Homo sapiens: one gene and its partner. The protein of the gene in region 2 purifies or fractionates together with the protein of the main gene of each other region. This does not show direct contact. Each region holds a gene or a part of one and is shown on either strand. Other genes may lie near its edges.

Region 1 (4,725 bases), on a different chromosome or scaffold from region 2:
AGTGTAGGTGTTCCAACCGAGAGCCTAGCTGAGGCCACAGCTGACAGCCAATGTCAACCTCCAGGCCAGTAGCTGAAAAGCTCCCTGCCACTCCCTGGCTCCTTCCCCAGCCATCACTGTGCTCCATCCAAATTCCTGTCCCACACAATTTGTGAGCATAATAAAATGACTTTTCACCAGTAATTCTAGGAGTGGAATTTTACGTAGCAACAGCATCTGAACAGTGCAACTCGGCAGCAACTACAATATTCACTTAATTACTACATAAAGGACAACTATGTATTTACTAAATTATTACATCTCTAATACTGTACTAACAACTGGAGTTGTTAGTACAATATGGAAAGTTAGTTCAAATGGAAATAATCATGGATAATGCTCAAAGTGCACTGTATCGACAAGAATCCAGTTAGGCTATGAGCAACAGAGAAGCCAGAACATTAACACTTGAAGAAGGTAGTTCCTCCCTTCACTTTTATTAAAAGTTCAAACAGGTCGCCAGATACGATGGCTCACGCCTGTAATCTCAGTACTTTGGGAGGCTGAGGCGGGCGGATCACCTAAGGTCAGGAATTCGAGACTAGCCTGGCCATTGTGGTGAAATCCCGTCTCTACTAAAAATACAAAAATTAGCCAGGTGTAGTGGCAGGCTGGTAATCCCAGCTACTAGGGAGGCTGAGGCAGGAGAATCACTTGAACCCAGAGGGCAGAGGTTGCAATGATCCGAGATCACACCACTGCACTCCAGCCTGGGTGACAAGAGCAAAAACTCTGTTTCAAAAAAAAAAATTCAGACAAGTAGTTCAGGGCTACTATACCCACAAGATGGGATTCAGACAGTATCTACCTCATTTCTCTGCCATTCACAAAACGAAGCCTTTATCACATAGTCCAAGATGGCTGCTCTAGTTTCTGCTATTGTGTCTACCTTTCAGGAAAAAGGGGGAAGGGATGGGCGTGCCTCCTCCTTTTAAGGATACTTCCTGGAAGTGTATCCATTGGCCCAAACTTGGTGGTGTGGCCACACCAAGATACAGCAATAAAATCTAGGAAAAGTTTTATCTTTATTCCAGGATGCCATTCCCTAGCTAATTAGGTGGGAAATCTGTAGAAGGAGAAAAACGAATATTAGGGAATACAGGGTAGCTCCTACCACATGCATATTCTAAAATTCATTGTTACTTGGTTTAGGATGCAGTTCAAATAACACAGTTACCTAAAGAACTACACCAATGTATCCTTTGTTAGACTCTCAACCCTAAAGATTTAGGTTAGATCTTTCAGATTGTATTTTAAAATGTCTTTAGTGCAGTATCAATTCTCACCAGACAGAACAGCTAAGTAAAATAAACAAGCTCTTAACAAATTATTAATTTTTAAGAAAGGAAAGGGCATTTAGAGCAAATATTTTCTCTAAAAAATACTAATATATCATGTTTTATATCCTACAGATATTCCTGCAATCTGTTTTCCTTGGGAAAGTCACTCATTAACCTGAAGTTCAGTTATATCATCTAAAGTATTACATATTTATCATGAGGGTTACATGAGATTACACATGTCAAATGCCTTGTAAATAGTAGAATTTTATACAAATATAAAGTTTTGCACCTTCAAAGCTATCACTCCAATAAGACACTTATTCAATTAAACAAATAATCTTAAAAACTATTTTAACAATGTACAAATATATTCACAACATAATCTGCTGATTAAGACTTCAACAAAGTTTATAATACCTACAACAGAATTTACAGATGCCTACAATAGTTTGTAGATTGGTTTAATTTACAGTTACATAGATTGCTTTAAGAAATACCATTAATACAAATGCATAATTTACAATATCCCCATTATAGCAAGAAAAAAATAGATTCAGAAAATAAAATGTCTTTTAGGCATTTATTATGCCAAGTATGTAAATTATTATTCTCATTATGACATGAGAATAATGCTCTTTTAGTGGTAAAAGATCTATTAGCTCAAGGTCCACTGAAGAACTTTCAATCTAGCTATCCTTTCTGTAAAATAAATAGAATAGCAGCAATCTCTGGGTATTCCTTAAACTATGATGATTCCACTTATATTAACTGGGCCTTAAGTAGATAACTTCTTACAAACAAAAATAAAATTTTATAAAGTAGTTAATACCACTGGCCCTAATTGTTTTCACTTGCTTGCATACGTCTAAGAAATTTCCCCATGAAGTACATATTAAAAACTAACAATTATTTCTAACTTATACATAAGCCAAAGTGCTCACTCTTACCATAGAAGCAAAACTTTCTCCTGAAAACAATCTACAGAAATAATATGTAAACATATAGAGCTTTGAGACAGACTAAGAACATCCTCCTATGTTCTATGGATCAAAATGCAAAGGTCTCCATTATCTGTGTAAATGAACACTTTCATTAACTTGGGATATACAGGTATTACATGGCCGTGTGCATACCTATGGAATGTGCATACCTACACCACAGAACAAATCTTAACAATGTTTCTAGTGCCAACATATACTTTCTAGCCCCAACTGCTGGAAAGGAAATAAAAACTTAATATGAAAACTACTTTTCCTTTTTATAAATAAAGTTTTTAAGTGGAAAAACAAAGCCAACACTCCTCGTTGCAACATGGACTAAGCTCTAAAAGGTTGAGTCAAGAATCTCTTCAGTTGTTCCCCAATGTAACAAAGCACATAAGCTTTCTCTATTCAGGAAGTCTGATCATCTCCAGTGTTCCGCAAAAGACAAAAAAAGAACTCCTTAACATCAAAGTTATTTCACTTCACACACCATGGACTTGGGGCCTAGGCCTAGGAAAACATTCTATATTTCTAAGCAGAGCATTACCTTACATACAATGGCCCAATCACATTAAAAAGTAGACATGCTAGGCTGGGCGCCGTGGCTTACACCTGTAATCCCAGCACTTTGGGAGGCCGAGGAGGGTGGATCATGAGGTCAGGAGATCGAGACCCTCCTGGCTAACACAGTGAAACCCCGTCTCTACTAAAAATACAAAAAATTAGCCAGGCGTGGTGGCGGGCGCCTGCAATCCCAGCTACTCGGGAGGCTGAGGCAGAAGAATAGTATGAACCCGGGAGGTGGAGTTTGCAGTGAGCCGAGATCGCGCCACTGCACTCCAGCCTGGGCAAACAGAGTGAGACTCTGTCTCAAAAAAAATAAATAAATAAAAAAGTAGACATGCGCTAATGAAGTAAATCCATGGATACCATCATCCACCCAGCTGTCCAGTTTGTCTCATTTGAGCAGACGCCGGATACCATGTAAGACACTAACCCTATCCATGTTATGCCAGGTTTAAGGTTTAATTTCACCTGTATTCCATGTTCCTCCCCACCTTCAGAAACACTGAAAATTCTAACGAAAAAAACCTAATAAGCACATACATGAAAGTTACCCTAAGGTGGACCACAGTAAAGGTATATTGGAGCCATGCAAAAATCCTTCAGAATGAGATGATCATGTCCCTACATGAATATTCATTTTCTCTACTTTTCATCTTCTGTGAGAGAAACTGTACAGTAGAATAAAAAGAACAATAAATTTTGAGTACAGAGGGCTGGGTTTAAGATCTAGCTTTGTACCACTATTAGCTGTATAATCTTAAGTAAATAATTTAATTTCTCGGGGCTTTAGTTATCTAAAATGTAATCCCTGGACCAGTGCCCTCAGTACCACCCAGAAACTTGGGAGAAATGCAAATTATGAGACTCCACCCCCAGATCTACTGAATAAGGAGTCTGGAGGTGGAACCCAGCAATCTTGTGCCCTCTAGGTGATTCTCATGTATGTTCGAGTTTAAGAATCCCTGTCCTACATAATATCACTTGCCCAACCTACTGTACTAACCAAATGCAAGGTATTACTCATATAAAGACCTAGTCACGGCCAGGCGCCGTGGCTCACGCCTGTAATCCCAGCACTTTGGGAGGCGGAGGCAGGCGGATCACGAGGTCAGGAGATCGAGACCATCCTGGCTAACACGGTGAAACCCCGTCTCTACTAAAAATACAAAAAAGCCAGGCGTGGTGGCGGCGCCTGTAGTCCCAGCTACTCGGGAGGCTGATGCAGGAGAATGGCGTGAACCCGGGAGGCGGAGCTTGCAGTAAGCCGAGATCACGCCACTGCACTCCAGCCTGGGCGACAGAGCAAGACTCCATCTCAAGAAAAAAAAAAAAAAAGACCTAGTCACTTTTCCCAAGAGATTTAACCAATAATTATTTACCTATGACTACTACTCATCCTGCTGAAAACCCTGATGTTGAGGTATTATAGTAAAATCCTTATGTTCTAGGGGGAAAAAAACATCTGAGTACAAATGTTATGGTCTTCTTGTGATTCAACTGTTCTCCCTAAAACCATACAACATACAGGCTGGGCACGGTGGCTCACGCCTGTAATCCCAGCACTTTGGGAGGCTGAGGTGGGCAGATCACAAGGTCATGAGATGGAGACCATCCTGGCTAACATGATGAAATCCCATCTCTACTGAAAATACAAAAAATTAGCTGGGCGTGGTGGCATGCGCCTGTAATCCCAGCTACTCATAAGGCTGAGGCAGGAGAATCACATGAACCCGGGGGGCAGAGGTTGCAGTGAGCCGAGATTGCACCACTGCACTCCAGCCTGGGCGACAGAGCAAAACTCTGTCTCAAAAAATAAAAATAAAAACATACAACATACATTCTGCAAGGGCATT
Region 2 (9,655 bases):
GGTATCTTTTCCTTTTGCCAATACCACCTAAGGGGAGGAAAGGAAAGAGTGCATAAACAGCACATACACACATATTTAAAAGAACTGCTCCAGCTCCCCTTACCATTTACCCCTCACACAGATAGGACCCAGATTCTCTTTCTCACTTCCCCATTAGTTTGACTTGGCTTTAAAGATAGCTTATGCAAACTAAACCCCCTCTCATTTTCCACCTATCCCCCTGTGATATCCACTCAGCTCATAAACTAGAGCATTCTAGGCAACTCAGCTACCCATTCTCTCTTTTTTTTAAGACAGGGTCTCACTCTGTCACTCAGGTTGGAATGCAGTAATGGAATCATGGTTCACTGCAACCTTGACCTCCTGTGCTCAAGCAATCCTCTCGCCTTAGCCTCCTGAGTAGCTAGGACCACAGGCACGTGCCACCACACCTGGCTATTTTTTTTTTCTTTGTAGAGATGTGGTTTCCATATGTTGCCCAGGCTGGTCTTAAACTCCTGGGCTCAAGCGATCTTCCTGCTTCAGTCTCCCGAAGTGTTAGGATTACAGGCATGAGTCACCGTGTCCAGCCCCATTCTCTTTTAATTCTTCACTTTTAAATCACAACATGTAGTATATGTCTTTACACATTGTCCCTTGTAACATAAGTGATTAGGGCTTCTAAAAGGAAGACTACATGCCTAAAACATAATATGCATCTATTATATTCAGTAGTAGAGAACACTTTGGAGGCACAGGACAGAAAGGGAGGCAAAAGTAAAATTAAAAAGATGCTGTTATTTTAATAAATGGACTCAACCTTCAACAATTACTTGCTATACGCATTCATTCTAAGCAATGGTATATTGACCCTAAACTGCGTAAGCAAGACTTCATGAGGAAAAGCACATCTACACATTTTAGATAAACACAGCAGTAACTATCCTCATGAAATAGATGCAACCCCCATTTTTGACCCACCTCCTGCTTTTTCTATCACCATTCCTTTCATATGAGTATTTCTACAGGATAAGCAAATCCATAATCAGCACTATATTTCCCAAGACGATCAGGAGACTCTGCTAAGAAGAAATAATTGAAGGGCATACTATGCGGCAGGCATGCTGTTTGCCTGCCCAAAAGTCGTATTTACGTAATTTCCCAGCTTCCACTACAGCTGCGACAGGGATGTGAGATCCATGCTGGCCAAGGGAACTTGAGGGAAAGCCAACTTTGGGGACTGTGGAAATGGTTTCCCTCCTAATGAAAAGAGACACTGGCCTTCCTGCCTTTGGGCAGGGTTGTGTGAAGTTATGGTGCCTGGCTGCCATCCTGTGACCATGAAGGGACAAGTCCCCAGGCTGAGGATGAAAGAAAGAGCCCGTGTCTTTGATTTCATCAATGAACCGACTACTCTAAATTTCCTGTTATGTGAGATAACAAGCCCCTATCATTATACCTTTTAGTTGGGTTTAAAATCCTTGAAGCATTTTTATTATTTATTTATTTATTATTGATTAATTGATTGGTTGAGACAGGGTCTTGCTCCATTACCCAGTTTGGAGTGCAGTGTCATGATCATACCACACCACAGCCTTGAACTCCTGGGCTCAAGCGATCGTCCCACCTCACCCTCCTGAGTATCTGGGACTACGGGCATTACATTTTAAATTGAACTGCAAAAGAGAAACTGGGACATTCAGAAAGTTGAACAAGAATAAGGAATTTCTCCTAGCATCATCTAATTTGAACCTGCACTGTCCCCTACAGTCTAGACTTGAATTTCATGCTGAGAGATGAAAAGAGGCATTTATGGTAAAGGTCTATCATTTATATTTGGTTTTTAATAGACATTTAAAACAGTCACATATACTCATCTATACTGTTGATTCCCCGAAAGTCAAATTGAGAGTGAGGAGCAGAGGATACAAAGGGAAATCACAGGTAATTAAAGAATCTTCCACAGGGTTAATGCATTTTCAGATCATCAGGAATCTGTTCTCTATTTTGTTTAGTATGAGAAGTATCTTTATTATTCTAGGTCAAAATAACCATGGGTTTATCTGTAGAAAATGAAGTTATTCATAGCAAAGAATAAAATGACTCAAAACTAGCTGTTTTATTTTGGCATAGTACTAGTCTCAGTCAAAAATGTCAAATCCTCTTTGGCACCAATATATCTTTACCTAATCTTCATGGTTGAACAAAATGATAATATAAGATACAATTTAGGGGGAAGAAAGTTGTTAATTATGTACCACACTAATCTAAAATATTTCCAAAACAAGCTCAAGATTCCTTACAGCCCAAAACATGCAAATAAAGATTTGTAACATCTTTTTGAAGTAGCTATGTTTTGGCATAAGAATAAAGAGTCTCTGTTTTAGAAGGTGAATTATTTAAAATATGAATAATTCTCCATAGCTTATCCAGTTTTATTTTTTACATCAATTGACCTACCAATAAGAAAGGTTACTGGTTGCAGGTAGTCAATTTCTTTGTCATGAAAGGGTTAAAATATGCTATTTTGGCACATTTTTAAAGGTAAAGAAACTCGAAAAATAGCAGGTGCATGAAGAGCACTTTGCCCTTTGTGCTGTTTCTTAGGAGAGAAGATGAAATTCCAGTATGAAAGGCACTCTGTACTAGAAGGAAAGGCAACATCCTAAGCTTCAAAGACAAGAAGTAGAATACTGTACAGAACTTGCTAAAATTTATTATTTAAGTCTCCCCACATAATTTAGTCACACAATGTCAATTTAATTCTTGGACCCAGCAGAGACCCTAACAGAATGGAGGTGTAATTTTTCTACCCCTAGAGTAGAGCATGGTACCATGTATACTATGTAATGTTAATATAATATATAGTTCATACTCTGTATTGTGTCTACTAAATATAGTATGTTAATTTGGATGTATACTATTTATGTAGTATATAGTTGATTCAAATAAATACTGTTTAATGATTCCGTTCTTTTACTTAAGAATATATTATGTGTCCCAAAGTCCTGGAATTACAGGTATGAGCCACCGCGGATCACCTGAGGTCAGGAGTTCAAGACCAGCCTGGCTAACATGGCAAAACCCCGTTTCTACTAAAAAATACAAAAAAATTGGCCAGGCATGGTGGCGTGCGCCTGTAGTCCCAGCTACTCAGGAGGCTAAGGCGCGAGAATCGTTTGAACCCGGGCGGCGAAGGTTGCAGTGAGCCGAGATGGTGCCACTGCACTCCAGCCTGGGTGACAGAATGAGACTATGTCTCAAAAAAAAAAAAAAAAGAATATATTATGTGTATGTTTCTATATATGCACACAAAATATTTCTGTTTTGAAGGACTTAATACTTGTAGCATTTAGTCAGAAAAGACATGTGCAACAGTTTAAGAAATTACATGCACATTTTCACATAGATCTCAAGGTAAAATCTAACGCACAGATTTTTGTGTAGCACCTTTCATACGGCAGTATGATAACTGGGTTGTGTTAAGAGTACCATTCTAGAACCTCTTTAAAAAGTTCCTAGAGCCACACATGGGTAACATGTTAACATTAAGTAGCCAATGGTGTTCAATGAACAGTCGTTTCACATACTCATGACTATGTTTTAACCATAACTTCATGGCAGAACGACTGTAAATTGGCAGGTAGCAGCAGAGCAACCATAGGCCATTGTGCCTGAGTCACCGCTCGTGTGATGCCCCTGCACAAACTGATGAATGTCTGTAGTAGCTCGATGTTGTAGTGTCATAACTACAGCTTAATATGCGCAACTATGAAGAAGCTGAGGAGTCAGGAGTATCTGAAAACTCTTACAGTCACACGGAAGAAAAATTCCCTGTTCATCCAGCAGAAGCACTTAGGCAGGAAACCACATATTCGACACCCGGAAGTGCGAAACGCGGGTAACGCAGTGGGAGGTGAAACCGACGAGGGTGCAGGCAGCACCAGGCGGCGAACCAGGCCCGCTGGGTGGTGGCTGGAGGCTGCGGGTGGGGACAAAAGCGCGGCAGACGAGACAAAAGGGAGCGCACTCACCAGAACCACTCGCTACCGAAGCTGGGCACGGAAAACACTCCCCAGTGGATGAAGATGCCGAACTTGGCCTGGTCAAACCACGCGGGCAGCTGGCGGGCGTCCAGGGACTCCCAGGTGGGGTCGAAGCGCGTGGCGCTGTGGGCAGGGCACGGCGGCGGCGGCAGCAGCAGCAACAGCAACAGCAGCAACGGGAACGCGAGCCTGGGGAGCTCCTGGGGCCGCATGTCCCGGCGCAGGCCGGCTGTCCTCTCTGCAGGCTCCCGCGGCCTCGGGAGCGCTGTTCTTCCGTCTCTGCCGCTGAGTATGCCGCGCCGCGGTCACCTGACCAAGTCGGACTTGGAAACCGGCCACCCTTCCCCCTCTGGGGCGGGAGTGGCCACTCTCCCGGGCGTTCCGAATGACCTCAGGAGGGCTGCATCGCTCAGCATAACTAAGGCCAGCATTACCCCAAAGCCAGCTGGGACGGCTTTGCTAAGGCTCTGTCCTCTTGAGGGGAAAATATGAGTCTGAGTCAGGGCCTTGTGGCCAGCGCCTCTGCCCTCAAGCAGACACGACCCTGACCAAGAAACTGCCCAAGAAGACAATGCCCCCAGCCCACCCTGGTGGCTGCTCCACACGTCCGAAGCGTGCACGAGAAGGTCAAGGCAGGAACTTCAGCCGGGTCTCGCCATGATGGAACATGGAAAGCAACCTAGATCCTTCTCGGCCTCTGTATCAGCTCCCAAGATCCTGCATGTTAGAACCGTGGTTGTCAACCTTGAATTTGTATCAGATGAAATTCCAAGAGCTTCAGATTCAGCAGTTAGGTTGGGGCCCAAGAATTTGCGTTTCTACCCAGTTCCTACTTCTAGGATGTTCTGATGTTGGGCCGGGCGCGGTGGCTCACTCCTGTAATCCCAACACTTTGGGAGGCCGAGGCGGGCGGATCACAAGGTCAGAAGATCGAGACCATCCTGACTAACACGGTGAAACCCCGTCCCTACTAAAAATACAAAAAATTAGCGGGACGTGGTGGCGGACGCCTGTAGTCCCAGTTACTCGGGAGGCTGAGGCAGGAGAATCGCTTGAACCCGGGAGGCAGTTACAGTGAGCAGAGACGGTGCCACTGCACTCCAGCCTGGGCTACAGAGTGAGACTCCATCTCAAAAAAAAAAAAAAAAAGAAAGAAAACAAAATTGTGATGTTTCTGATTGGTGGTCCAAACTTTCCTGAGAACCACTGCATTGAACAAGGAGATGATCTGAGACAGGTGAAACCAGTGGAATGAATGTTTAAGAAACCTGCAAGCTTGGGAAAAAAGGCCAGCAACTTGGAAAGATTAATCAAAAGGATATTTGGGAAGCTTATCACCTCCACCTCTTGTTTGGTTTGTTTGTTTGTTTGTTTGTTTGTTTGTTTGTTTGTTTTTGAGACAGAGTCTCGCTCTCTCGCCCAGGCTTGAGTGCAGTAACATGATCTAGGCTCACTGCAGCCTCTGCCTCCCGGGTTCAAGGATTCTCCTGCCTCAGCCTCCAGAGTAGCTGGGACTACAGGCACATGCCACTGTGCCAGACTAATTTTTGTATTTTTCTTTTCTTTTTTAGTAGAGACAGGGTTTCACCATGTTGGACAAGCTGGTCTCAAACTCTTGACCTCAGGTGATCTGCCCGCCTTGGCCTCCCAAAGTGCTAGAATTACAGGCATGAGCCACCAAGCCCAGCCTCTCCTCCACCTCGTAAGTGTTTTCAAAGTAAAGCCAGAATCCTCAACTGCTTCTGCCCCCATGAAATCATTACCCTTCAATGAGCCAATTCAAATGCTGCTTCTTTTGTGAAGCTTTCTGCCACCACCCTTCCCTCCCAGAATGTTGTACTTTCCCTGATCTGCTTCATAACACCTCCTTCCAAGCACACATAGGATTTCACGCATCCTCTAGTAGCTAGGTGGTACAGGTCTGATTTCCCATCAGACTGTGAGCTTTTTGAGGGCATTCATAATGACCTTCTTTTCTGTAGTGCCTACAATTACAGCAGAAAAGCAGCACTCAAAATGTTTGTTGAAGCTCTCCAGTGAACTGGGGTTCTAATTATTGAGTGAAGAACTTGACACTAAGTGGCTGTTGCCTGCATTATCCCAACCCATCTCTGCAGAGAGATGGGAGCAGCAGAGGGCGCTGTCACTGCAGGTGTAGGGGCATTTTTCCTCTCCATGACATGCCAGATGGCCCCCCGGGGCCACAGCTCCACCGTAAGAGTCCCCAATTTTGTTTTGTTTTTTTACAGTGAGGGTGTTCTAGAGGAAAGGGCTCAACGAATCCAATTGCAATAGCTCCAGTTTGTGATAAAGATGACAATTTTTTTTTATTTGAGACAGAGTCTGGTTCTGTTGCCCAGGCTGGAGTGCAGTGGCACAGTGTTGACTCACTGCCACCTCCACCCCCGGGGATTCAAGCAATTATCGTGTCTCAGCCTCCCGAGTAGCTGGGATTACAGACCCCAACCTCCAGCTAACTTTTGTATTTTCACCATGTTGGCAAGGCTGGTTTTGAACCCCTGATCTCAAGTCATCCTCCTGCCTCAGCCTCTCAAAGTGCTGGGATTACAGGCATGAGCCACGGTGCCTGGGCTGACAAATATTTATTATTGAGTTTGTGGAACCCAGAATGATCTAGGGCCTCAGTGGCCACTGAACCCTGGGGCACACTTGAACAAAAATATGGGCTTCTCAGCCACTATGCCTTGACATCCTCTCTAATCAGAAGTTTGTGTAATAAGTGCAAAAGACAATATTCACAGTGACAATGATACTGTGAACTGCCATAGGGAGAGTAGACATGACTGTGGTGACAATGCAGCGGCAGCAGGACCCTGTCCTCTCATAAGTGGGCATCCTTTCCCCATGTGAACACCACATAGCAGAAACGCCCATCTTCCAAAGCCCTTTTATCATGTTATGAATTATTTACACTTCCATATATTTCAGTTAAAGAGTGGTAATCAGATCTGTATGGATGCCACTTGGGTCATTTGTCATTTCACTTGAAGGCAAAGAAATGTTTTTAACTGGTAAGTACAACCTTATCATAAAAGTCTATTTTCTGTAAGAAATACTGAAAATATATTAAAGACCTCCCTTAGTGCCCTTCAGGACACATAAGAATCCTAATATACCAGGTTGGGAACCATTGCTATAGGATTTGAAAGGAATAGTAAATAGTATTATCTGAAAGTGAAGAGGAAGAAGAGATTCTACTTAAAAATATTTGTTAAATGACTGAAAGAAATAAATCTATGAAGTCGTTTAGAACATGGTCCTTTAGGGAAAGACCTGCCTGCTGTAGATTCCATTCACATTTTATACGTTTGTAATGCCTTACAAAGCTAGTCTTTGCACTTAAAGCTACTGCTAACTGAGCAATAGAATCACACCTCATAAGGCTTAAACTGTGTATTTAAAGGTTTTGATAGGGGATCCAGAAATCTGAGTGAAACCCTGGGTTCTGCAGGTACACATGGCTCATGTATAAGGCATTTGAAGGGCTTGTGGCCTTGATGGGGAACACTGTCAACTCTGATCCTGTTTGTCTGAGGTTACTTGGGGTACAAGATGAAGACAGAAGGGCGTGCCTCCCTTCTGGAACCATCACGGCCAGCAGCCGCATGTTGGGCAGCTGCTGATACTCAGGGTGCCCAGGCGGGAGATGGTGAGAGGCCAGCCCTAGCCAAATTCCTTGCTGCTGCCAGAGGAAGCAGTCTTGCCATGTGTGTCCACAGGGATAAGATTAGCTGCCGAGGTGGAGCTGATATCTGAGCGAGGCTCTCGAGGACACATTCTGGATAGATCTCCATATGGGAGTTGGATGACTGCCACCAGCCAGTCTTGGCAGTCCCCAGAATTCTTCTGAAGTGGACAGTGGAAGAAGTGAAACATTTGCCTGGCAGCTGGCATCAATGCAGTCTCTCTCTGGACATGCAGAAGAAAAGGTTCAAAAGGAACTGAACCCAAACCAGTCTTTATTTGGTAAATATCCCAGCTTCACGGTAGAAGAGCAGGCATGGGGGAAATAAAAGAAAACCCGCCTTTTTCAGGCCAGGGGGCAGGGAAGAGAAGCAGAGAGGAATAAAGGGAGGAGGCCCCGGGGTGTCAGCAGAGAGGGGAGAGCTGCCAGGCTGTGGCCCCACGCCAGCCTCTGCCATAGGGCTGTGTAATCCTGGGGAAGGCGTTCAACCTCTGTGCCTCAGTTTCTTCACCTATTAAATGTGAGTGATAATCGTGCATCTCCCTCCTAGGGGTGTTGTGAGAATTAAATCATGAGAAGTACATGTTAAGCCTCGTCTACGTGTGGACCAGTATTACCATGTGTGTGTTAGATCAATTCAGGGGAGCCTACAGAAAGCAGAGATTTTGTCCTGATTCCCATTTAACCTGAAGTCCTAAATGAGAATCAGGACAGAAATGTCCTGATTAGGACTCAGGCTAACTGGCAAGTGTAGCAAGGTACAGCCATGTTAGACAGATGGAGAGGCTGCTTTTTACCTTTCCTGGGGTGACCTTGATATTCGAGTGACACAAACAGGACCCAGAAGTAGCCAAGAACCTAACTGGAAATCTGTCCTGAGTGGTTCTCTGTGGCAGGGCCTCCTGTGCCAAGGACCTGGGGTTCACAGCCATTCCTCAGAGGACTCTTGCCTGTCTGTGGAAACTGAGTGGTGGGGGCAGGAGCCCGATACAGACCAGATCTTGAATTAGAGCAGCTTCAGGCTTCATCTGGGAACAGTGAAAGAACGGGTGTCAGCACTCCAGGACCAGAGAAGGCAGGGACGGCGTGTTCCTTCCCAGAAGCTGGAGAACCCCGCCCCTACTCCATGCCACCTTAGAGAGAAGCAGGGGAGGGGGAGGCATCTGCAATATTGAGCGTTGTTACCCAAAGAACAGCCTACATATTTGCTGAAGATGCTGTTTAATTGACAAGATTTGACTATGTTTAATGCAGGTAGAATAATTAAATTTGATCACCAACCACCCAGTGTGTGCATGGGGGACAGGAGCATGCTGTCTGCTGAGGCAAGTAGGGTGACTAGAAACAAGAACAAATTGCCACTTTTTCTCTGCACCAGGGTTGTCAGTGGCAGGTAATTTAATGATCCTAGTATGCAGCTAAGCATCAGAACACATGACACATTTGCCTTCTACTTCCGTCCTTCCCAATGTCTTCCGGGAAAAATGAATGATCTAATGAGTGGCTGTGCACGGAGGCCTAATTCAGGGAGATGAGGTCTCAGTCACACATTGAGTCTCCTTTCCAGTGGCCCTTATGGCTGAGGGAGACAGTGTCCCCTGGGCTGCACCAGTTGGAAGAGAAGGCGGAGTTTTCACAGCCCTGGTTAGAAGTGGGAGGGAAGAGGTCAGGTCCTCAAGAGGAAGAGGAAGCAAAAAAAGAAAGAAGGAACTGACAGAACTGAGATAGGGCTGGGCAAGAGGGAGAAAGGAGATGAAAGAAAAAAAGAAAGAAAAGAAAAGAAGGAAGGAAAAGAAAGAGAGAGAGAGAGAGAGAAGGAAGGAAGGAAGGAAGGAAGGAGAAGGAAAGAAGGAAAGAAAAAAGAAAGAAAGGAAAGAAAGAAAGAGAAAGGAAAGAAGGGAGGGAGGGAAGGAAGGGAGAAGAG

The links. The genes of interacting proteins can lie anywhere in the genome.
Region 1: the proteins of FUCA2 (region 2) and TVP23C purify together in Homo sapiens (affinity purification with mass spectrometry, with the first as the bait; 2 studies listed by BioGRID). This does not show direct contact.

Annotation. Positions count from the first base shown.
Region 1 is NC_000017.11:15,535,414-15,540,138, forward strand, and holds the end of TVP23C (Golgi apparatus membrane protein TVP23 homolog C), read right to left. Parts: 3' UTR 1,567-4,725; downstream 1-1,566.
Region 2 is NC_000006.12:143,507,398-143,517,052, forward strand, and holds the start of FUCA2 (plasma alpha-L-fucosidase precursor), read right to left. Parts: upstream 4,324-9,655; 5' UTR 4,238-4,323; coding exon 4,014-4,237; intron 28-4,013; coding exon 1-27. UniProt on the Homo sapiens protein: Alpha-L-fucosidase is responsible for hydrolyzing the alpha-1,6-linked fucose joined to the reducing-end N-acetylglucosamine of the carbohydrate moieties of glycoproteins.